7 linked regions of the Homo sapiens genome follow. The protein of the gene in region 6 purifies or fractionates together with the protein of the main gene of each other region. This does not show direct contact. Each region holds a gene or a part of one and is shown on either strand. Other genes may lie near its edges.

Region 1 (3,500 bases), about 64 Mb from region 6:
AGGTATTTCTTCAAAGTAGATATACAAATGGCCCATAAGCACAAGAAAAGATGCTCAACATAATTTATATTTCAGAGAAATATAAATCAAAACCACCTGAGATACTACTTTACACCTACTAGGATGGCTGAAATAAAAAGGACAAAAAGTGTGGGCTAGGTAAGAAATTATAGCACGAAGCCAGGCGTGGTGGCTCATGTCTGTAATCTCAGCACTCTGGGAGGCCCGCAAGTGGATCACCTAAGATTAGGAGTTCAAGACCAGCCTGGCCAACATGGTGAAACCCTGTCTCTATTAAAAATACAAAAAAAATTTTCTGGGCATGGTGGCGGGCACCTGTAATCCCAGCTATTCAGGAGGCTGAGGCAGGAGAATCGCTTGAACCCAGGAGGTGGAGGTTGCAGTGAGCTGAGATGGCGCCATTGCACTCCAGCCTAGGCGACAAGAGTGAAACTCTTGTCTCAAAAAAAAAAAAAAAAAAAATTATAGCATGAAACATTTATATATTTTCTTACAATGTCTTCTAATCAACTGTAGAAACAATCTGCCTTTTTTTTTTTTTGAGATAGCGTCTTGCTTTGTTGGCCAGGCCGGAATGTAGTGGCACAATCAGGGTTCACTGCACACTTGACCTCCTGGGCTCAAGTGATCCTCCCATCTCAGCCTCCCAAGTAGCTAGGGCTACAGATGCATGTGCGCCACCACATCCAGCTAATTTATTGTATTTTTCGGGGGTGGATGCAGAGACAGGGTTTTTGCCATGTTGCCCAGGCTCATCTCAAACTCCTGGGCTCAAGTGATCTGACCATCTTAAGCCTCCCAAAGGGCTGGGATTACAGGCGTTAGCCACCATAACCAGCCAACAATCTGTTTTCTGGTCACTACAAAAGCTATTATTGCTGGGCATGGTGGCTCACGTCTGTAATCCCAGCACTTTGGGAGGCGAAGGCAGGTGGATAACTTGAGGTCAAGACCAGCCTGGCCAACATAGTGAAACTTCATCTCTACTAAAAATACAAAAAAATTAGCTGGGCAAGGTGGCACACACCTGTAGTCTCAGCTACTCAAGAGGCTGAGGCACGAGAATTGCTTGAAGCCAGGAGGCAGATGTTGCAGTGAGCCGAAATCCGGCCACTGCATTCCAGCGTGGGCGACAGAGTGAGACTCTGTCTTAAAAAAATAAAAAATAAAATAAAATAAAGCTATTATTTGTGTGTTAATAGCACGAACAAAAGACAGAGCATATTTCTTCTTTACTGAAGCACTCTTCTATTTCATTCCTTGTCAGTTGTGTATATTTCTGAATGGTTTTTTTAAACAAGTAAACTATGATTAAGATGAACAGACAGAATTACTTAGTACGTAAAAAGTAAGGCCGGGCGCGGTGGCTTACGCCTGTAATCCCAGCACTTTGGAGGCCGAGGCAGGTGTATCATTAGGTTAGGAGTTCAAGACCAGCCTGGTTAACATGGTGAAACCCTATCTCTACTAAAGATACAAAAAATCAGCCGGGCATGGTGGTGCACGCCTGTAATCCCAGCTCCTTGGGAGGCTGAGGCAGGAGAATCGCTTGAACCTGGGGGGTGGAGGTTGCAGCGAGCTGAGATCACGACATTGCACTCCAGCCTAGGCGACAGGGTAAGACTCCTCAAAAAAAAAAAAAAAAAAAAAAAAAAAGCCAGGCACAGTGGCTCACGCCTATAATCCCAGCACTTTGGGCGGCTGAGTCGGGCAGATTGACTGAGGTCAGGAGTTCGAGACCAGTCTGGCCAACGTGGTGAAACCCTGTCTCTACTAAAAATACAAAAAAATTAGCCAGGCGTGGTGGTGTGCACCTGTAATCCCAGCTACTCGGGTGGCTGAGGCAGGGGAATTGCTTGAACCAGGGAGGTGGAGGTTGCAGTGAGCCAAGATCGCGCCATTGCACTCCAGCCTGGGCAACAAGAGCGAAACTCCGTCTCAAAAAAAAGTAAGATTTATTTCATGTTTAATGAATTTGGGGCTTATGGTATGCTGCTGGGGAGTTTTAGAACACTTTGCCTTTACTTCTTCAACGTACATAAAATTCTAAATGATGTAATTCATTAAATTTTTAATTACTTACCAAAATCTACCCTTGTTAATATGCACTGCATTGGGTGGTCAGTTGTATGCCTTGTTGTTGTTGCACCACTTTCATAACAAGATGCACAAAGATCGTAATCGTAGCAAATTAAACACTTATATCTGCGACCTCGAAAATTTCCTTTTAAACATGCATCACAGCTGACACCTATAAAAAAAAGAAATATCTTTAGTTACCAGTTGTAAAGGCCACTCTTGATTTCATTTTTATGAATGTTTCAGGTGCTCATTTAACCTCATATGTCCTTTCCAAAATGACTAGAAATGACTTAGTAAAATGATACGGGAAGTTTTAGCCATGTGCTGGATTCATTACTCTGATTTATACTCCACATGAAAATAATTTAAAATGACTGATACAGGCTGGGTGCAGTGGCTCACGCCTGTAATCTGAGCACTTTGCGGGGGTCGAGGCGGGTGGATCACTTGAGGTCAGTAGTCCAAGACCAGCCTGGTCAACATGTTGAAACCCCGTCTCTACTAAAAATGCAAAAATTAGCTGGGCGTGGTGGCTGGCACCTGTAATCCCAACTACTTGGGAGGCTGAGGCATGAGAATTGCTTAAACCCAGGAGGTAGGGTTGCAGTGAGCTGAGATCGCGCCACTGCACTCCAGCCTCACAACAGAGTGAGGCTTTGTCTCAAAAAAAAAAAAAAAAAAAAAAAAAAAAGCCTTGATAAGCCAGCAAGAAGGTAAAAACCAAGACGAAGAGGAACTGGTGACTGGAAGCACTAAAGAAGGCTTTTCACCATGAGGGTATTTGCCCAAGCAGGTAAAAATCTAAGCTTAAGGTCCACAGCATTATTGGACAAAGGCCTAGTGAAGGTGGGATAATTAACAGAAGATTCCTCATAAAACCAAGACCCTAATATACTCTCAATGCATGGGTAGGCTAGAAATCCTCCCTAGGGGATTACAAAAATTACCCCAGTGAAAGCCCCCTGCCCTAGGGGCACAAAATAACACAAAAAGCCATAACCACAAACCAGTCCTCATGGGTTTATAGCCCAAATTCTATCAAATGGTTCCAAAGACCTTGGGTCAAGAATTTTAAGTGGTCTTAAATTAGAATTGATACCAAGCATCTGGCATATATAAACATCCAAAGAATAAGTTCATAATTTAAACCATAAAATACACACAAAAAAACAAAGCACCATCAGAAAGAACTAGCAGGAGCAGCAGAATCAGTCATGAGTTCATATCAGAATTGGGGCATCAAATAATTCTTGACCTGTTAAAAGAAATAACTGGGTGTGGTGGCTAACACCTATAATCCCAAGCACTTTGGCAAGGCGAGGCAGGGGGATGGCTTGAGGCCAGGAGTTCAAGACCAGCCTGGGCAACATAGAGAGATCCTGTCTACAAAAAAATTT
Region 2 (3,500 bases), on a different chromosome or scaffold from region 6:
GGTGCGGGCGCTGGGGGCTCCGGATACAGCCTCTGCTGCGCCGCCTGTGGTGCCTGGTCTCCCGGCCCTAGCGCCCGCCAAACCTGGTGGTCCTGGGCGGCCCCGAGACCCCAACACATGCTTCTTCGAGGGGCAGCAGCGCCCCCACGGGGCTCGCTGGGCGCCCAACTACGACCCGCTCTGCTCACTCTGCACCTGCCAGGTAGGAGGTCCTGGAAGGGCACACTGGGTCCTGGGATCTGGAGCAAGGGGCCTGGACACTCCCGTCAATGCCTCTGCTCCTCTCTGCAGAGACGAACGGTGATCTGTGACCCGGTGGTGTGCCCACCGCCCAGCTGCCCACACCCGGTGCAGGCTCCCGACCAGTGCTGCCCTGTTTGCCCTGGTGAGTTCCCCGCAGGGGAGTGGAGGGAGGAGTTGGCCCAGTGCGGACAGGTCCTTTGGGGAGGGAATGAGGGTGGTCACTCTCTGCTTTCACCATTTCTTTGGCTCCACAGAGAAACAAGATGTCAGAGACTTGCCAGGGCTGCCAAGGAGCCGGGACCCAGGAGAGGGTGAGCTGGAAGGGTGCGTGCAGGGTGGGAGGCCCCAGAGGAGCCATTAGGTTGAACCAGGAGGGGGACAAGAAGGGGAGAGTATATAGGGGGTGGCCTGAGGGGCACAGATTCCAAGTGATGCCTGACAGGACTCATTAGTGTTACTGGCCCCCAGGTGGGCCCTTGGCTTAGGCTCGTGTGGGGGTGGCCTGAGGCTCAAGCCTTGGTTGTGGGCCCAGCTGATGAGCTCATACTAATGGCTGCTGGGCCCTGTTCCCCACCAGGCTGCTATTTTGATGGTGACCGGAGCTGGCGGGCAGCGGGTACGCGGTGGCACCCCGTTGTGCCCCCCTTTGGCTTAATTAAGTGTGCTGTCTGCACCTGCAAGGTATGGCCACCCAATCTTCTCTGGTGCCATAACCCAGCGGGGTCTGCAGAGATGGGGAGGGGCTGCCAGGTGAGGAAGGCCCGTCCTTGGTGAGGAGGGCTCAAGAATCAAAACGATATGAGAAAAGGCCCTTGCGCTCTGAGAGTCGGCTTCCTGTGGGAAAATGAACAGGGCTGACCTGGGTGTGGATTCTGGCTCTGCCAGCTAACTAGTGCCAGTGACCCTAGGCACCTTCTGTCCCTGAGCCTCACTTTCCTCTCCTGTAAGCAGATATGATGGCACCTACCTTGCAGGGTTCTGATGAGGAGCTGAGTTTAGGTCTATAAAGCCAGTCCGGGCCTCTGAGTAAAAGGCCACAGAGAGACTGCATTTGAGGTGTGGAATAGGAGAGGGAGTGGGCAGGAGGCTTATGTGCCCCCTGCCTGACACTCCTTGCTCAATGGATCCCTACAGGGGGGCACTGGAGAGGTGCACTGTGAGAAGGTGCAGTGTCCCCGGCTGGCCTGTGCCCAGCCTGTGCGTGTCAACCCCACCGACTGCTGCAAACAGTGTCCAGGTGAGAGAGGTGGCTGAGCACTGAGGCCTCACCTTTGGGTTGAGGCAGGCTTTGTCCTGGGTGAGGGGAAGGGTGCTCAGTTAATTGAGCATTATACTGAGCACTGCTCTGTGCCTAGCCTGGAGCCAGGACTCTAAATGCAGTGGAAAGAATGTGATATACTAGTGGGGTATGATGGGTTCTGGTTCCTGCTCCATCCATCCGTCCATCCATCCATCCATCCATCCATCCATCCATCCATCCATCCATCCGTCCATTCATCTATCTATCCACCCATACAACCATCCACCCATTGATGCATCCATCCATGCATCCATCCATCCCTCCATCCATCCACCCATCCACCCATTGATGCATCCATCCATCCATCCATCCATCCATCCATCCATCCATCCATCCGTCCCTTCATCCATCCATTCATCTGCCCACCCACCCATCCAAATTTATCACCTACTAAGTGCCAGAAACTGCAACGTGCTGGGTATTCAAAGAGAATACTCATAAAACCTTGTTGGTCCTCCTGGGCTGATCCTTTCTCTTTCCCTCTCAACAGTGGGGTCGGGGGCCCACCCCCAGCTGGGGGACCCCATGCAGGCTGATGGGCCCCGGGGCTGCCGTTTTGCTGGGCAGTGGTTCCCAGAGAGTCAGAGCTGGCACCCCTCAGTGCCCCCTTTTGGAGAGATGAGCTGTATCACCTGCAGATGTGGGGTAAGTGGGGAGCAGAGGCTTGTGTGAGGTGGGTACTGGGAGCCTGGTCTGGAGTAGGGAGACCTTCCCAGGGAGGTCCCTGAAGAAGCTGAAGGTCACTGTGTCCCAGTGCCTCTGGGGGACACTCAGTGTCTGCTCTGTCTTGTACCAGGCAGGGGTGCCTCACTGTGAGCGGGATGACTGTTCACTGCCACTGTCCTGTGGCTCGGGGAAGGAGAGTCGATGCTGTTCCCGCTGCACGGCCCACCGGCGGCGTAAGTGAGGGAGTCCAGGGTCAGCAGCTGTGAGTGGAGGGCTCACCTGCCTGTGGGACTCCTGATCAGGGAAGGGAGCACTCACTGTGTGCAGGAACAGTGCAGCCTGCCTCACAAGTGCCATTCCAATCCACCCTCACAGCAACCTGGTGGAATTGTTATTTATGACCTTTTCTTTACAAATGAGATTTCTGAAGCTCAGAGAAATTAAGCAACGAGATGAAGGTCACCCAGCTGTGTGCACTGACCTGTTTAGAAAATACTGGCCTTTCTGGGACCAAGGCAGGGATGCTTTGCCCTGCCCTCTATGCCTCTCTGTGCCTCTCCACTCCCTCTCCCCTCCTCCAACATTCCCTCCCTTCTGTCTCCAGCAGCCCCAGAGACCAGAACTGATCCAGAGCTGGAGAAAGAAGCCGAAGGCTCTTAGGGAGCAGCCAGAGGGCCAAGTGACCAAGAGGATGGGGCCTGAGCTGGGGAAGGGGTGGCATCGAGGACCTTCTTGCATTCTCCTGTGGGAAGCCCAGTGCCTTTGCTCCTCTGTCCTGCCTCTACTCCCACCCCCACTACCTCTGGGAACCACAGCTCCACAAGGGGGAGAGGCAGCTGGGCCAGACCGAGGTCACAGCCACTCCAAGTCCTGCCCTGCCACCCTCGGCCTCTGTCCTGGAAGCCCCACCCCTTTCCTCCTGTACATAATGTCACTGGCTTGTTGGGATTTTTAATTTATCTTCACTCAGCACCAAGGGCCCCCGACACTCCACTCCTGCTGCCCCTGAGCTGAGCAGAGTCATTATTGGAGAGTTTTGTATTTATTAAAACATTTCTTTTTCAGTCTTTGGGCATGAGGTTGGCTCTTTGTGGCCAGGAACCTGAGTGGGGCCTGGTGGAGAAGGGGCAGAGAGTAGGAGGTGAGAGAGAGGAGCTCTGACACTTGGGGAGCTGAAAGAGACCTGGAGAGGCAGAGGATAGCGTGGCAGTTGGCTGGCATGCCTGGGTTCCGCAGAGGGGCTGGGGATGGTTCTTGAGATGGTCTAGAGACTCAAGAATTTAGGGAAGTA
Region 3 (2,950 bases), on a different chromosome or scaffold from region 6:
GTCAGCGAACTCAAATGCCACCCCTTCAGTGAGGCCTTCTGTGTACATTCTTTTCCACATCACCCAGTTTTCTTTTCTTTGAGACAGAGTCTCGCTCTGTTGCCCAGGCTGGAGTGCAGTGGGGCGATCTCGGCTCACTGCAACCTCTGCCTCCCTGGTTCAAGCAATTATCTTACCTCAGCCTCCTGAGTAGCTGGGATTAAAGGCGCGTGCCATCACACCCACCTAAGTTTTGTATTTTTAGTAGAGACAGGGTTTCACCATGTTGGTCAGGCTGGTCTTGAACTCCTGACTTCATGATCCGACTGCTTCGGCCTCCCAAAATGCTGGGATTACAGGCGTGAGCCACTGCGCCCGGTCCAGTTTTATTTTCTTCCTAGCACTTAGTCCTGAAGTTATATTATGCACAATGTACCCTGCGTGTCACTATTCCCAAAGGCCCTACAGAACCTGTTCAGTCACGCGGAACCACCTTTTTTTTTTTTTTTTTTTTTTTTTTTGGAGTCTCGCTCTGTCGCCCAGGCTGGAGTGCAGCGGCGAGATCTAGGCTCATTGCAACCTCCACCTCCCAGGTTCAAGCAATTCTCCTGCCTCAGCCTCCTGAGTAGCTAGGATTACAGGCGCCCGCCACCACGCCCGACTAATTTTTTGTATTTTTAGTACAGACGGGGTTTCACCGTGTTAGCCGGGATGGTTTCCATCTCCTGACCTCGTGATCCGTCCGCCTGGGCCTCCGAAAGTGTTGGGATTACAGGCGTGAGCCACCGCGCCTGGCCGGAACCACCTTTAATCCTCACCAGGCAACCTTGGACAGGAGAAACTCGGGCCCTGACACCGCTAGTAAGGTGCCCAAGACCACATAGCAAGGCCGAGGACTGGGGTTTTCTGCTGGGGCCATTCCAGCTTTGGCTGATAATGCGTTTATTGCGTTACTTTAGTACAGTCGGCCTGCCTCGCCCCACCTCCAGCAGCCCAGCCTGTTCACAGCTTTCTGCTCACTGCTCACTACCCAAGGAGGTGGGGTCTGTCTCCCAGGGTGGGCACTCCAGGCACCTCCTCGGCCCTGGTCGTTGCTCTGGAGCTCGGCTTCCCCGTCCCTTCCCTCCGGCTGAATCCTGCGCCCGACCTGTGCCGCCCTCCCGGGGCTGCTACATTCAAGGGTTATCCTGTTAATAAATAAGCCCGCGCAGCTGCCCTCAGCCAGGGCCTGTCGGTTGGTGTCTCCATCGGCCGGTGACCCCCAATGTGCCCGGCCCCAACCCGTCCTTCTTTTCAGGGTCTGTCTGGCTCCTCTCTCGCCTGTCGTCTCCTGCTTGGTTCCCGGCGTGGGGACAGTCTGGTCACCAGTGCGTTGCGCTGCGCGGCCCCCGCTCAGCGCGAGGCTCAGGGGCGTGGGTCCTCCGGTTACGGCCCTTTCTCCGCGACTCCAGGGGCAGTGACTGCAGCGCAGGCTGCGGGCGGCACATGCGCAGGGAGTTCGCGCTGCCACCTCCGCCCGGCTCCACCAGCTGCAGAAAGTCCCGGTACCAGAGTTTGGGGCCCGGCGGCGCGGCGGGCGCAGCCTCCTCGGCCCGCGCCAGTCGTTCGGCCTGCGTAGCACTCAACACGTGCAGCGACAGGCGACGCAGCGGTTGCGTAAAGCCCTGCTCGACGGCGGCGCACAAGTACACGCCCGAGTCCCGGCGCCGCAGCCTGCGCAGCAGTAGTCCCCGGGCGGTGCGCTCGGTGCGCTCCTCTGCCAGCACCTGCGGGCAGAGGGCAGCGTGAGGCGGGGGTGTCGGGCCGGGAACAGGGCTTCCGGGCCCTAGCACGCGACGGAAGAAGCAAAGAGTCATTGGGAGCCGAGGTGGAGCGGGAAAGGGGTGCCCGCAGGCGCACATTTTAAGGCTGAGTGTTTGGGAGCTGGTGGTCTTCAAGGGAGAATCCGAAAGAGGCGGGGTTTACATGAACTTGGTGGGGGGTGGTCAGGGACCTTAATGGGAGGGTCGAGGGCGGGTCTTCTCCTTGATTCAGGGGAGGCGGGTCGGGAGCCCCGTTGGACGCAATGGGGCCTCAGCAGCTTGTGGAGTGCAGGTGAGGGACCAAACTGGACAGGGCGGGGAGTGGGTCTGGTTGGACGGGGCTTCGTTGGGTAGGGCGGGGCCTCTCCTGGATGCAGGGGGTGGGACAGGAGCCTGGCGGGGAGGGCGGAGTAAGGCTCACCTGGGTGTGGGCTGTCACCCCTGCGCGCTGGAAAGTCCACTCCACGCGCGCCTGCAGCGAGCGGGGCTCACACTCCAGAAAGGCGCTGCTGCCCTCCACGCCGAACACCTTGTGTTCCAGCAGCGCGGGACGAGACGAGTCTTGGGGCGAGAAGAAAGTCAGATTTAGGCAAGGCAGGGCAGGTGGGGCGTCTTCTGGGGCTGAGGGTAGGGGCAGCTGGGGCACTCACCTCCGGAGCACAACGTGCTGGGGTCGCCATTCCTTACGTCTTGCCGCCGGAACCGCCTGTGGGGAACATCCGATCTTCTGTGAGCCCTTCTTTCAGCCCCGGGCAGTGAAAGACCCTTCGCCTCCCTCCCGGCGGCCCAACCCCGACCCCGCCCACCTCTTGGCACTGGGCTGGAAGCGCGTGCACGCGACCCCGTCCCAGGCGCAGTAGGGGTCACGCGCCAGACAGCATTCGGTGCAGACGCGGCCGTGGGCAGCGCAGCGGTGCAACGCGATCTGGGCCACCGCGCTCCGCGAGGCTACGTACAGCTGGTGCTAGGGGGCACGAGGGGCTCTGGGCTGACCGAGGGCGACCCCACGCCTGCCTCCCATCGGTCAGGGATCCCTTCTTCCACTCGACAGATGGGAACACTGAGGTCTTACGCCTCAGGTCACACAGTCTAACAAAGCCAGAGCCTGTACTCAAACCCGGGACTGCAAACTACCAAAAGGGGCCAGAGGCTTGGGACGCGCCAGGCAC
Region 4 (3,389 bases), on a different chromosome or scaffold from region 6:
AATGTGTGTGGTGGGGGAAGGGAAGAGAAGAGTGCCTCTCTTATCTTTATTTTTTTCCTTTTAAAATTTCCACTTCCTAAAAACAAAATAAAACCCTTGTTAACCAAGTGCTCTCCCGTCACTGCAGGGCACGAAGGGCTACCCCGGCCTCAAGGGGGACGAGGGAGAAGCCGGGGACCCCGGAGACGATGTAAGTGTGGATGGGAGGCAGGGCCAGCCCCAAGTCCACCTGAGCCAGAGGGCTGGGCCCTTGAAGGGCAGTGGACCAGGACCCGCTTGGGGAGGCCTCATGGGCCCCGGCTGCTGGATGCTCTGTGGACGGGGCCAGCGCGCAGATGCCCGGGTGGTGCACGGTCTGTTGACACAACGCTGTTCCCTTCTAGAACAACGACATTGCACCCCGAGGAGTCAAAGGAGCAAAGGGGTACCGGGGTCCCGAGGGCCCCCAGGTGGGTGGATGTGGCTGGGTGAGGCCACGGTGGGCTGTGCCTGGGACGCCGGATGCTGGGGCTGGGGAATGCTGGAAGAGGCTGGGAGAGTGGGAGGCGGCGGGAGGGAATTTTGGGGAGCACGTCATCTGGGAGGCCCTGGGGGTGGGAGGTGCCGGTCACCAGGGCCAGGTGGTGGCCAGGGCAGCAGAGCCGAGCCCAGGGACACAGCGGGTCCTCAGGGTGGGGCCCACCTGGGATGGCCGCCTGGACCACCAGTGTGCGAAGCCCCAGCTGCCCTCACAGCACCGTCACTGGAGGACGAGGGGCTGGGTAGGGAGGGACCGGGCAGGGGTGGGCTTGATGAGGGGCAGGGCCCTGGGGGTGGGGGCTGTCTCAGCTCAGGAAGCACAGTGGGCTCCTCACCCTCAGAGCTCCTCTACTCCGTTTCTCGGACAGGGACCCCCAGGACACCAAGGACCGCCTGGGCCGGACGTAAGTGGGGCTCTGTGAACATTGCTGGGGGCGACCACTGTAGCTTCCATCCCTTGGGGTGTGGGTCCTGTCCATGGGTGCTCCTGTAGACGCTGCTCACGGGGGGGTGGGTTGTGGACAAAGAGCTGGTGCCAGGCCCTAGGGACCCGTGACGGCCATGGGAGGACCCGTGAGGATCATAGGGGGATGTGTGAGGACCATAGAGGGGACATGTGAGGATCATGGGGGACATGTGAGGATCATGGGGGGGACGTGTGAGGATCATGGGAGGACGTGAGGATCATGGAGGGGGACATGTGAGGATCATGGGGGACCCGTGAGGATCATGGGGGACCCGTGTGAGGATCATGGGGGGGGACGTGTGAGGATCATGGGGGGACCTGTACCCATGAGGACCATGAGGGGACCCGTGACGGCCACGGGGAGACCCATGACTGCGCTGTTTCTATGACCACGTCAGGGGTCCAGCCCAGTAGCAGGGGTGTAGTGGGCAGAGCCGGGCACACCTGCAAAGAACCTCCTGCCCAAACCCCGCCCTGTGGGGGCCCCAGGGAGGGTGACCTGGAGATCCAGCAGCCCACAGTCCCCGCTGGGAGGGGCTGTCTATGGCCCCAGTACCCTCGTCTCTCCCTCCCCAGGAATGCGAGATTTTGGACATCATCATGAAAATGTGCTGTGAGTATCTCTGAGAAGCCGTCCTCGTTAGGGAGAGCAGGGCCGCCAGCCTGGCCTGTTCCACTCCTAGAAGGGTGTCTCCACTGTTGGGGGCCTGGGTCTCTGGGTACATCCTTGAGGAGGCTCCTCAGCCAGCCCCTACCGGCCTCCAAAGCCCTCCCAGGCCCCCGGGTCCCCGCACAGGCTGAGAGTCCCCGGTGCGGTGCAGAGCTGCCACGTGGGGAGGGCGGCCGGGGAGGCGGGGAGGCGGGGCAGGAGGCCGGGGAAGGGGGGAGGCCGGGGAAGGAGGGCGGCCGGGGAGGCGGGGAGGCTGCCCCAAGAGTAAAAGCCTTTCTGACGTGCGCAGGACGCGGCCCTGACTGGTCTAACTGACTCTTTCTCTTCTCCTCAGCTTGCTGTGGTGAGACCCAGGCTCTAGCTCCTGAGAGAATGGATCCCGGGGGTCGGGGAGCGAGGCCTGGGTCCCACACATGTCACAGGACAGCACATGGCACTCTGGTCCCCGCCCGCAGCTCCCTGCACCTGCCCGCCCCCTCTGGGGCCTGCTCCAAGCCAGCAGGGTTCCCGGGTGTTGGGCTGGGCCCCGCCCTCTTTCACCCATAACTGAAATAACCAGGAGCAGGCTTGGGGGGGTCCCTGCTCCATCATTCTGGCCCACAGGCCCCACCCTAGCCTGGCTGAGCAACGCCAGCCCTGACCAGCCGCCGGACAGAGCAGCCTTTACGGGGCCATGGGAGGGGGTGGGCTTTTCTGGGGCTGAGACGGGGGGACCCCAACGTGTCAGGTGAGGATGTGGCAGCCAAGGAGGGGCCAGGGCGGTGGAGGGGAGGGGCCAGGGCACTGGAGGGGAGGGGCGTGCTCTGCTGACACCGCCCCCGCCTGCAGAATGCAAGTGCGGCCCCATCGACCTCCTGTTCGTGCTGGACAGCTCAGAGAGCATTGGCCTGCAGAACTTCGAGATTGCCAAGGACTTCGTCGTCAAGGTCATCGACCGGCTGAGCCGGGACGAGCTGGTCAAGGTGAGGCCTCGCCCCGCCCGGCTTTCTCAAGCCCAGGTGCACCCCGACCCTGCCGGCCGCCCCTGCCCGCGCCAGACCTCAGCCTCCCGAGGCCACCGCTGCATCCCTGTGACTTCCCTACTCATGACAAGGATGCCAGGCACGCGCCAGCCCGTCCAGGCCTCCAGCTCCACCTGGCGAGGCTGGCCCATTGTACACAGGCGCCCCAGATGAGGGAGGGTCTCCCCCTCTCCTTGAAGGGCGGTAGTCTGGGGTCCTGAGTGCTGGGTGTGGGCTTGTCCCTCGTGGACAGAACCCAGGAGGGCTTCATCCACCAAGGAAGATTGCTTTGCAGGGTACCCAGGTCCCGGGGGCTGTGCCACCCTCTGGGCACCCGGAGCCAATCGCAGGGTACCCAGGTCCCGGGGGCTGTGCCACCCTCTGTGCACCCAGAGCCAATCGCAGGGGACCCAGGTCCTGAGGTCCTGGGGGCCATGCCACCCTCTGGGCACCCGCAGCCAATAGAGTCACCCTTGGGAAGCTTATGCGGACCTGGGGCAGCACTCGCGTCCTGACCCCGGTGCCGGTCCCACAGTTCGAGCCAGGGCAGTCGTACGCGGGTGTGGTGCAGTACAGCCACAGCCAGATGCAGGAGCACGTGAGCCTGCGCAGCCCCAGCATCCGGAACGTGCAGGAGCTCAAGGAGTGAGTGCCCCACGCGGCCAGGACCCTCCCACCCCTCGCCCCGACCGCTGTTCCCACGGCAGGTCGGCCCTGACCCCTGATCCCAGGT
Region 5 (3,500 bases), on a different chromosome or scaffold from region 6:
GGTCACCGAGAAGTATGGGCTGGTTATTTTAGCATGACAGAATGCAGGCTTGGAATTTCTCCTTGACATGGCAGAAGAAATAGGAATGATGCCCAGAGGACTGGAATAAATTCAAAATGCTTGGTTTTCCAAGTTCTATTTTAATAAACTTCGGAAAATTAACCTTTCCCTGAAAGACACGTCCTTGGTTTGGCACACAGGGCTTTCCAAAACAGTGAGAAACGAACTGGCCATGTGCTGCACTCACACACATAGTCATTCTTTTTGCTTGGGGTTGACTAGGTTCATAGGGCCAGATTTTCCTCAGTGTCCTCTTGTAGCAGTGCCGCAGTGAGCTTTGTGATTCTGACAAAGGGTGCCATTATATCCACTTTGAAATGCATTACAAATATTCTGCATGCTGGTGCAACTGGCATAAAATCTGGAAAGCCACCGCCCCCCCCCCCTCCCCCGCCGCAAGAAGTGCCCAATTTCTTCTCTTTTCACACTTCAACATTTCAAATGACTACACACAGAATTACCAGAAACAGTAGTAAATTCCTGGCATTCGAAGTTCCCATGATCCCAGCTGGCATATAAAAAAGACTCTCTCCTTTTTTTCCCCTGAAAATAATGTACTCTCCAGGCACTGTTGAAATGCTTCAAATCAGGCAAATGAGAGATTTGTTTTGACCAATCAATGAAAAGACTTCCCCCTCTTCTCCGTGAGGGCCCCAAGACTGGGTTACGCCATACACAAGATGTCTGTTTCTAAAGAGACTTCACTGATTTCCCTAAAATGATTTTAACATTTCTTTGCAAGTGAAGCTCTGATGTTGCCTAATGTTATTTTCAGAGTAGCCTGCTGCAGGATGCCTAATTTGAGTTTTTATTTCCCTGCTATAAATGTGACAATCTGAGTATGTTTTCATTCAAACCACCTTGAACATGGTGGCTGAGGCTTCACCACAAATGTCCAGAAAATAGCACTGGAGTCTGTCTGAGTCCTGAGATGGTCAAATCTCAGAGAAATCCAGCTCTGGGCCCGGAAAGGAAAGTGCCATCTCTTAACCTTTCCTCAGGAAAATTATTTTATTGATTTTTTTGCCTTATTTTCATGCCTTTTAAGTCAAAGGAAGATAAATGGAAAGTCTCTTTTTGGTCATTCACTAATTCTCTAGGGCAAGTCACATAATTCTCTAGGACAAAGGCCTCCATGATGTTAGGATGAATGCCATAGAAGAGGTATGGGGGGTGATGGCTGCATTTTAGACTAATCATAGGCATATCCTTTGCTTTCTCTATGTCAGGGGTCTCAGCATTGCTTGCAGAATATGTGCCCCAGTGTCTGGATGTCTGAATGACCTAAATTTGAGCTGGTCATCAATGAGTATTTATTAGCACATTGCTCTTAAGAAGTTAATAACTCGGCCAGGCACGGTGGCTCAGGCCTGTAATTCCAGCACTTTGGGAGGCGGAGGTGGGCGGATCACCTGAGGTCGGGAGCTGGGGACCAGCCTGACCAGCATGGAGAAACCCCGTCTCTACTAAAAATACAAAATTAGCCGGCTGTAGTGGCATATGCCTGTAATCCCAGCTACTTGGGCGGCTGAGGCAGGAGAATCGCTTGAACCTGGGAGGCGGAGGTTGCAGTGAGACGAGATCACGCCATTGCACTCCAGCCTGGGTAACAAGAGCAAAACCCCATCTCAAACAACAACTAAAAGAAGTTAATAACTCTGCCTAATAGCACATTTAGATTTTTATTTTTTTTTCCATGAATCATCTCCATTCACTCACTCTTAGGTTTATACTTTCCCCTAAAATTCCCCCATGAAACTTCTAAAATTAGTTTCATGCTATGTATTTGTTTGATAGGCACAGAAGGTTTACAGCTGCATGGTCAGTAAGCGATACTTTGGTCATGAATGTATATATACATATATATTTGCAATGCTGAGAAAAAGAGAGACTGCTGTTAAAAATCAAAATTCTCGTGGAATGAAGAGAAGCCACTGAGATTTTTTTCAACCAGAATGAAAATAAATAAAATATCACTATCTGCCAAATCAAAAGCTTTTATGTTATTCCATTATGAAAGACATTTATTGAGTAATTTGCAAATGTTAATAAGCCTTAGAAACTAGGAAAAGCTGAGTACTAGTTTATGACTTACATTTAATTTTTTTTCCAGCCTTTTATCCTGGGTTTAAAGTAACACAGAATCTTTCAGTGTCAACAGTGAGCTGGAAATTAACCTATAATAACAAGTTTTGAGCATTTTGCTCCTCCAGGCAAAATTTGGTCACTCATAATAAATATATTATGAAGAAGCCAATGATGATGTATTCCATAAACTTGTTATGAAAAACTGACTCCAGAAATTATGTGACTTTACTTGAATAATTACCATTTTACTTCTCTACAATAATCATTGTGAGAGCAGTGGGCATTGGATGGTTGAAAAGTTATTCCAGACAATAATTAGGCAGATGTATTACAATTTAAGTTGAGGCTAGATCAACTTAATCAAAACCTTAAGAAGTAATACCATGTTATGATATGACAATGGTAGAACAGGAAATTATAGACACATTTGAGGCTGGAGTTTTCTGATTTCCCTGATTGTCTTATGTCTGGGATGGTCTAATAAATGACATAACCACCACACACACCTAAAGTGCAAATGCTTTTTTGATACACTGGTGTTTCTGAATACCTCAAAACAGTGATATTAATAATTCAAAACCCAATAGAAATATTGGGTCGAGAAATCAAACTTCAACTGTTGCATCTGGTCAGTAAGACTGCAGTGAACTAGAAAGTATTCTTAGGTCAGGGAGAATTTTGAGTAACTTTTTTTCTCACAGATAAAATTAACAGGTCTACAGCACAGACATGCAGTGATATATTATGTTTCAGACACATTCTTCAGGCAAACAGTTTCTAGTTCCCATTTTAAGTAGAATAGAAAATTGGAGTTGAAAATTGATAGAGTATTGTTGATCCTATCTACTTGTAAAGTCTGGTTTAGGGATGTTATTGTATTATAATGATCGGTTACATGCCTGGACTCTCACTACTGTATATCACAAGTTACTAGCACAGTCACTTGGTTCCAGTAGGTGTTCAATAAATATTTCAGTGAACTGAACAGTTAAATAAATGAACAAATAGGGAGATGAATCAAAGTGCTCTGTAAAATGTAAAATGCTTCACAAACATAAGGTAATAGGAGTATATAAAAGGTAACACCACAGACCTCGCATTATCTGCCCAAAAAACCTTATAAGGACAAAAATGTTGTAATAGTTTGAAGAGCAAATAAAAATTGCAATTATATATGTGGTCAGAAAATCAGCTATATAGATCATTCATTTTCAAATATATTTGGGAAGAAATAAAACAAAGGCAGAAAAATTTTAAATGGCCAAAATAAATTGTATTGCTAACTTAGATGGCCACAGATGGGGGCAGGGGTGGAGAGAGGAGAAATTGAAAACACCACAAAGACCCCGCAA
Region 6 (3,500 bases):
CATTGATACAGAATTTTTTGTGGTGTTCTTTTATTAGCCATTTATGTCTGAATGGTCAGTAATAATACTCCCTCTTTTATTCTTGACATTATTAACTTATGTCTTCAGTCTTTTTCTTGCTCAGTCTGTCTAGAGGTTTATCAATTTTACTGATCTCTTCAAAGATCCAGATTTTGGTTTAATTTTGTCTATTATTTTTCTGTTTTCAATTTAATTGATTTCTGCTCTTATTTTATTATTGCCTTCCTTGTCTTTGCTTAGGTTTAATGTACTCTTCTATTTTTTAAGGGATAAGCTTATATTACTGATTTTTGTTTTAATAGAAGTATTTAATGCTATACATTTCCCTCTAGGCCTTGCTTTAGCTGCATTATACAATTTTGAAATGTATATTTGAATTTTCACTTAGTTTAAATATTTTAACATTTCTTTTGAGACTACTTATTGACCCGTATGTTATTTTAAAGTATATCATTTAATTTTAAGATATTTGGGGATTTTCTAGAAGTTTTTCTGTTATTGATTTCTAGTTTAAATCTTTTATTATCCTAGAATATGACTTGCATGATTTCTGTTCTTTTAGATTTGTTCATATTTGTTTTATGACCCAGAATGTGGTTTATCTTGGTGAATTTCAATGCACACTTGAAAATATGTGTATTCTGCTATTGATGGGTGGGATGTTCCAGAAATATCAATTAGGTCAAGTTGCTTGATAGGGTTGTTCAGGTCTTCTGTGTTCTTATTAATTTTCTGCTTGTTTTCTCTATAACCAAGAGAGGAATGTTAGCATTTCCAGTTACAATTGTGGATGTATCTATTTTTCTTTTTACTCATATCACTTCTTACTTCATGTATTTTGACTCTATGTTGTTAAGTGCATACACATTTAGGGTTGTGATGTCCTCTTGGAGAACATCTTGATCCCTTTCTTATTATGTGATGTCCCTCTGTATTTCTGTTAATATTCCTTTTTCTGTAGTCTGCTTTGGGTGTTAATAATACAGATACTCCAGCTTTTTTTGGATTAATGTTTGCATTGTATATCTTTTTGTGTTCTTTTACTTTTAACCTATATTTAGGTTATAAAATAACCTGTATACTTAAGGTGGCTTTCTTGTGGCAACATATACTTGAGTCTTATTTTTTCAACTAATCTGACAATATCTGTCTGTTAACTGGTATGTTAGACCATTTACACTTGCTATGCTATTGATATGGCTTAATTATAATCTACCATCTTGCTAGTTGTTTTCTATTTGTTCTATCTGTTCTTTTTTTTTCTTGTTTCTTGAGCTTTTTTTGTTGTTGTTGTTGTTTATTTTGTTTTTTGAGATGGGGTCCCGCTCTGTCACCCAGGCCAGAGTACAGTGGCGCAATCTTGGCTTACTGTACCCTCGACCTCCTGGTCTTGAGCATTTTTTTATATTTTCCTTATCTCCACTATGGACTTCTTACCTATGCCTCTTTACATTTTTTTAGTGATTGCTCTAGAGTTAATAATATGTATCTTTAATTAATTAGAGTCTACTTTCAAGTAGTATTATACTGTTTCATTTGTAGTCTTATAGCAGTATATTTACAGTACTTCTCTTTTATGTTTTGTGCTATTGTTATTATCATTTTTTAATATCAGCTATAAATAAAAGATTTTTTGCTTTAGACCAGGGGTCAACAAACTTTTTCTGTAAAAAAGCCAGAAAGTAATTATTTTAGGCTTTGAGGCCATAGATGGTCTCTGTTGCATATACTTTTATTCTTAAACAATTCTTTACAAATGTATTTCAAAAAACATTCTTAGTTCATTGGTTATGCTAAAACAGACCAGGGGCTAGGTTTGGCTTGTAGGTTATAGTTTGCTTACTCCTGCTTTAGACATTCAGTTATCTTTTATAGCAATTAAAATTAAGAGAAAAAATAATTTTGTTTGATTTTCATTTATATCATTTCCATCATTGTTTTCTTTGTGTAGATCCAAGTTTTGGTCTGGCAACGCCTGGATAACTTAATTTAACATTTGTTGTAGTGTAGGTCTCCTGGCAATGAATTCTAAGTTTTTGTTTCTCTTTGATTTCTATTTTTCCTGCATCTTTGGGAGATATTTTACTGGGTATAAAATTCTGGGTTGACAGTTTTTACGCTTGATCTTAGCTAAAAGGCTGAGAAGCAATGGGTTGACAATTTAAAAAAAAAATTCAGGACTTTAAAAATGTTGCTTCATTCTCTTCTTGTATGCCTCTGACAAGAAGTCTTCTGTAATTCCTATCTTTGTTCCTTTTCATTTGATGTTTCATTTTTCTTTTGCTGCTTTCAAGATTTTATTTTTGTCTTTGGTTTTCAGCTCTTTGAATATGATATGCCTGGGAGTGTGTGTGTGTGTGTGTACATGTATGCATGCGTGCACACTCTTGATATTTATCATACCTGATGTTCTTGAGCTCCTTGGATCTGTGATTTGGTATCTGTCATTAATTTTGGAAAATTCTCAGCAATTATTTTTTCAAATATTTCTTCTGCCTATTTTCTTTCTTTTCTCCTGAAATTTCAGTTACACCTAGGTTTGAATTTATGATACAGTCCCACAGCTCTTGGGCACTCCATTCGTTTTTTGCTTGTTTTATTCATGTTTTTTCTCTTCTTATTTAGTTTGGGTAATTTCTACTGATCTATTTTCAAGTTCAATGATTTTTTCCTTTGCTGTATCAAGTCCACTGAAGAATGCCTGTTGAAAGCATCCTTTATTTGTTACTGTCTTTAGCCTTTCAAATATTTCCATTTGATTCTTTCCTGCAGTTTTTCTCTCTGATAACATTTTCCATTTAATCTTTCAGATTGTCTACCCTTTCCACTACGGACTTTTATAATTAATTTTGGTTATTTAAAATTCTTTGTCTGATAGCTTCAGCATCTAGGTCTGGTTCTATTCATTGCAATGTCTTTTCGCAGTATGATCTTTTCTTGCTTTTCTCATGCCCTATAATTTTTTTTTGTTGATAACTAGACATCTTATATAGGACATTAGATATGGAGATAGGCTTTATGCATGGGAATGGGCACGCCGTTCTCTTTTTACCAGGCCTTTAGTGTGAAGATTGATCAATCTAGTCAGAAGATGAACTGGGTTTGAGGGTTCTCATTCCTCTGGTTATTCTCAGTGTACCCCCAGACTTCAAATTCCTCTAGTGATGCCTTGTATTTAGGGTTGGAGCTGGCTTGCCAAAGGCCTTTGCCATTCCCATCTTTTGGTCTTCCTGTGGTACTGGGCCCCAGAGTGGTCTGTCTCCATGCTCTTTCAACTCTCCCAGTGGTAGTCCATTGTTATTTGTGACCCGATGCTTGTTAGTCAGTGTCCAGGTACATCTGCCTCAAGTAGACAAGTGCTCATGTCTTGTCTCTTCCTGCAAGTGCCTCTCTAGATTTTGGGCTAGTTTGTTCTCCTTTGCCTCAGTTTTCTCATGGATTTGAGAAGGTTATGATCTTGTGCTTTACCTGGCTTTTTA
Region 7 (3,500 bases), on a different chromosome or scaffold from region 6:
ACGTGGACAGTCACCTGTCTCCTTAATACCGTGCCCAGTGTGTGGAGTAGATGAATGCAGGAGAAGCCAGGCAGGCAGGTCCCGATTTGGCGCAGCGAACGATGGAGGTGCTGGAGATTTAGGGACAGGAAGAAGGGCCAGAGAGGTGGTGTTTGAGGCGGTATGCAGTGATAAAATTTGGGAGCCAGCTGGGAGGCGGCTGTGTGGTCCAGAGTGAGGGGGTTGAGCCCCTCCATTTGTGGTTTTGCAAAGAGGTGGGAAGGGGAGTTTCTTTGGAGATCCAGTTTTTGGGTTCTGGGACACCCTCCAGGTTTAACCACATGGTCTCTGTCTTTTCCCGCTGTAGATATCAATGAGTGTTTGAGTATCAGTGCCCCGTGCCCTATCGGGCATACATGCATCAACACAGAGGGCTCCTACACGTGCCAGAAGAACGTGCCCAACTGTGGCCGTGGCTACCATCTCAACGAGGAGGGAACGCGCTGTGTTGGTTGGTATTAAGAAAACAAATCTGAAATCCACTTTCCTGTCTGCTTCCAGCATGCACCCTGCCTTCTCTGGAAGCAGAAAGTTGATCCCCAAAGCAAAGCCATTTCTATCAGCCCATCCATCCCACTGTCAGTTCCCAAGCATGGGGCTTCATTGTCTTGCCTGGACTGGTGCACCAGCCCGTCTACTGCCTCAGCCTTGTCTGGCTTGTCCTGAGCCCAAAGCTCTCGCACCCCACCCTGTTTACAGTTCCATCAGCTCCCCGTTGGTGACAAAGGATGGATGCCTCTGCTTACAGTCCAGTCCCCCAGAGCTGGCCCAACTCCACAAACCTTGTAATTCAGGCAATGTGGGTCTGCCACTCCCCACACAAGCACTGTCCTTTCCTCTCTGTGTGGGTGTTTGCTCTCACGTCATTCCCTCTGCCCACCTGCTCCTACGTTCCTTTGGATCCAGGGCACCCAGCCTGCCTAGATCCCGCCAGGGAAGGAGCCTTCCTCGCATAACCCCCAGGACACTTCTTCAGTGTCTCCCTGGGTTCCTGGGCACTTCCTACCTTAATGAGAGTCATTGCTGGCCTGCCAGCCAGGTAGGGCTGCCTCTGGGTCAGCTATCTTCCCAGTCCAGGGCCCGGCACTCAGTAGGTGCTCTGTGAAGTCGTGTTGAAATGGAATGCCTGTTTCCATGTCCATGTGTTCCTTTCTTGCTTTCCTTTCTGATCATCTTGGGGGGAAAAAACCCAAACTAAAGGTTTTCATCATGGCTTTCTTTCTCCTTTGCAAGATGTGGACGAGTGCGCGCCACCTGCTGAGCCCTGTGGGAAGGGACATCGCTGCGTGAACTCTCCCGGCAGTTTCCGCTGCGAATGCAAGACGGGTTACTATTTTGACGGCATCAGCAGGATGTGTGTCGGTGCGTGGGGGGCCCCGCAGGCCTCGGGGGAACCCAGCCACGTGGCACCAGGGACACATTTCTGTGGCACCTCGAGTGATGTGGTCTGATCCTCATCTCAGATAATCCCAAGTGCAGGCAGACCCTGAGAGAAGATCCTGAGTCAGGAGACCCCATTCTAGCCCCAGCTCTGCTACTGCCCAGCCAGGCGGCCACTGGCACCACCCCCCTGTGTGTGAGCCTGCTCCCCATCTGTGGAAAGGGGTTCTGCTTGACCCAGGACCTCCAAGTGCTGATGAGCCAGGTCTACACATGTGGGCAGCATCAGCGATTTCCTGGAGATTCACCGCTGAGCTGTAGATCCCCAGGAGCTAGAGATGTGTGCCTTTAGCCCAGGGCAGCGAGGGGAAAAGTTGACCAGGAGTGGGGTCAGGTCTTGTCCAGCCAGTGCCTGCTGTCACCAAACCTAGGTGCTCAGGGAAGCCTGGCAGCTGCCAACCACTCCCCCAAAGTGGGCACTTTGCTAGATCCTGGCAGACCCTCCTTGTGGGTCCTGGGGAGGAGGACTGGCAGGAGGGCACAAGTTCAGATGTGCTGCCGCAGAAGGAGCACGAGGCTCGCCCACCAGGCAGGCACAGCGCGGCAGTCCCGGCTCTCCCACTGACTTCCCGCATGCTCGGGACAAGTCACTTTGCATTCCTTGTCTGAGAAATGAGGCTGGAGGCCAGGCGCGATGGCTCATGCCTGTAATCCCAGCACTTTGGGAGGCTAAGGCAGGTGAATCACTTGAGGTCAGGAGTTTGAGACCAGCCTGGCCAACATGACGAAACCTCATCTCTACAAAAAATACAAAAATTAGCCGGGCGTGGTGGCACATGCCTGTAATCCCTGTTACTTGGGAGGCTGAGGCAGGAGAATCACTTGAACTGGGAGGCGGAGGTTGCAGTGAGCTGAGATCATGCCACTGCAATCCAGCCTAGGAGACAGAGCGAGACTCCATCTCAAAGATGAAGGAAAAAAAAGAAATGAGGCTGGAGGAGGTGGAGGACAAAGGACATGAGCTGGCCTTACTAGGAGGGTGGAGTGTGGTGCCACTGTGTTGGACATTGCCCTGAGTCAGCCCACCCCTCACTTTCAGATGTCAACGAGTGCCAGCGCTACCCCGGGCGCCTGTGTGGCCACAAGTGCGAGAACACGCTGGGCTCCTACCTCTGCAGCTGTTCCGTGGGCTTCCGGCTCTCTGTGGATGGCAGGTCATGTGAAGGTGAGGCTGGGGCCCCGTCCACTCACCTCCCCCAGGTCACCTTCCTCCTGGGGAAGCCACCCTTCTGCAGACCGGTTTGCAGCAGATCCGCGATGGTTTCCCTGTTAAATGACATGTTAGCAGGGGAAGTGCCTGTAAAATATTGTTCATCAGAGAGGACTGCCCGCCTGCCCACCCGATTTCTCCTGATGACATCCACCCTCCGAGGCCGTGTCGGGGTTCATAGGCTGCGGCAGAGGCCATGCGGGATGTGGCTAGGATTATGGGGCTTGGAGCATGACACCCACGAGTCACAGGGCCTTGGTTATGCCCGACCTCTCCCTGCCTCCGTGTCCTCCCCGGGGAGAGGGGTTGATGTGTGAAACAGCAGCGAAAACTGGACACTTGTTTTGCACAAAGACAGTGTGTGGGTTTTAATCAGATGCTGCCTAGGGGAGACAGGCCTCTGTGTCCATTGATCTCAAGTCACCCAAACAAAAGGAGGGAGGCTTTGTAAATGACGAGCTGTGAGAGGAAGTACTGAGGCCTTTAGGGCGTGGGTCACTGTGCACCTGCCTCTAACTTCTTTTTTTTTTTTTGAGACGGAGTCTCGCTCTGTCACCCAGGCTGGAGTGCAATGCTACGATCTCGGCTCACTGCAACCTCCGCCTCCCGGGTTCAAGCGATTCCCCTGCCTCAGCCTCCCGAATAGCTGGGATTACAGGTGCACACCACCATGCCCAGCTAATTTTTGTATTTTTAGTAGAGACAGGGTTTCCCCATGTTGGCCAGGCTGGTCTTGAACTCCTGACCTCAGATGATCCGCCCACCTCGGCCTCCCAAAGTGCTGGCATTACAGGCGTGAGCCACCGCGCCC

What was found.
Region 1: the proteins of LYPD6B (region 6) and KCMF1 purify together in Homo sapiens (affinity purification with mass spectrometry; one large-scale study listed by BioGRID and IntAct). This does not show direct contact.
Region 2: the proteins of LYPD6B (region 6) and CHRD purify together in Homo sapiens (affinity purification with mass spectrometry; one large-scale study listed by BioGRID and IntAct). This does not show direct contact.
Region 3: the proteins of LYPD6B (region 6) and SEMA3B purify together in Homo sapiens (affinity purification with mass spectrometry; one large-scale study listed by BioGRID and IntAct). This does not show direct contact.
Region 4: the proteins of LYPD6B (region 6) and COL6A1 purify together in Homo sapiens (affinity purification with mass spectrometry; one large-scale study listed by BioGRID and IntAct). This does not show direct contact.
Region 5: the proteins of LYPD6B (region 6) and PLXDC2 purify together in Homo sapiens (affinity purification with mass spectrometry; one large-scale study listed by BioGRID and IntAct). This does not show direct contact.
Region 7: the proteins of LYPD6B (region 6) and FBLN1 purify together in Homo sapiens (affinity purification with mass spectrometry; one large-scale study listed by BioGRID and IntAct). This does not show direct contact.

Annotation. Positions count from the first base shown.
Region 1 is NC_000002.12:85,026,661-85,030,160, reverse strand, and holds part of KCMF1 (E3 ubiquitin-protein ligase KCMF1), read right to left. Parts: intron 2,273-3,500; coding exon 2,105-2,272; intron 1-2,104. UniProt on the Homo sapiens protein: E3 ubiquitin-protein ligase which accepts ubiquitin from an E2 ubiquitin-conjugating enzyme and then transfers it to targeted substrates, promoting their degradation by the proteasome.
Region 2 is NC_000003.12:184,386,554-184,390,053, forward strand, and holds the end of CHRD (chordin isoform 1 precursor), read left to right. Parts: coding exon 1-202; intron 203-291; coding exon 292-385; intron 386-497; coding exon 498-554; intron 555-820; coding exon 821-924; intron 925-1,377; coding exon 1,378-1,480; intron 1,481-2,033; coding exon 2,034-2,188; intron 2,189-2,339; coding exon 2,340-2,442; intron 2,443-2,813; coding exon 2,814-2,869; 3' UTR 2,870-3,276; downstream 3,277-3,500. UniProt on the Homo sapiens protein: Dorsalizing factor. Key developmental protein that dorsalizes early vertebrate embryonic tissues by binding to ventralizing TGF-beta family bone morphogenetic proteins (BMPs) and sequestering them in latent complexes.
Region 3 is NC_000003.12:50,275,097-50,278,046, reverse strand, and holds the end of SEMA3B (semaphorin-3B isoform 1 precursor), read right to left. Parts: intron 2,746-2,950; coding exon 2,588-2,745; intron 2,488-2,587; coding exon 2,432-2,487; intron 2,343-2,431; coding exon 2,203-2,342; intron 1,746-2,202; coding exon 1,341-1,745; 3' UTR 501-1,340; downstream 1-500. UniProt on the Homo sapiens protein: Inhibits axonal extension by providing local signals to specify territories inaccessible for growing axons.
Region 4 is NC_000021.9:45,998,770-46,002,158, forward strand, and holds part of COL6A1 (collagen alpha-1(VI) chain precursor), read left to right. Parts: intron 1-127; coding exon 128-190; intron 191-383; coding exon 384-449; intron 450-887; coding exon 888-923; intron 924-1,561; coding exon 1,562-1,598; intron 1,599-1,989; coding exon 1,990-1,998; intron 1,999-2,483; coding exon 2,484-2,617; intron 2,618-3,191; coding exon 3,192-3,301; intron 3,302-3,389. UniProt on the Homo sapiens protein: Collagen VI acts as a cell-binding protein.
Region 5 is NC_000010.11:20,284,932-20,288,431, reverse strand, and holds part of PLXDC2 (plexin domain-containing protein 2 isoform 1 precursor), read right to left. Parts: 3' UTR 1-3,500. UniProt on the Homo sapiens protein: May play a role in tumor angiogenesis.
Region 6 is NC_000002.12:149,045,199-149,048,698, forward strand, and holds part of LYPD6B (ly6/PLAUR domain-containing protein 6B), read left to right. Parts: intron 1-3,500. UniProt on the Homo sapiens protein: Likely acts as a modulator of nicotinic acetylcholine receptors (nAChRs) activity. In vitro acts on nAChRs in a subtype- and stoichiometry-dependent manner.
Region 7 is NC_000022.11:45,540,883-45,544,382, forward strand, and holds part of FBLN1 (fibulin-1 isoform D precursor), read left to right. Parts: intron 1-346; coding exon 347-490; intron 491-1,272; coding exon 1,273-1,401; intron 1,402-2,518; coding exon 2,519-2,644; intron 2,645-3,500. UniProt on the Homo sapiens protein: Incorporated into fibronectin-containing matrix fibers. May play a role in cell adhesion and migration along protein fibers within the extracellular matrix (ECM).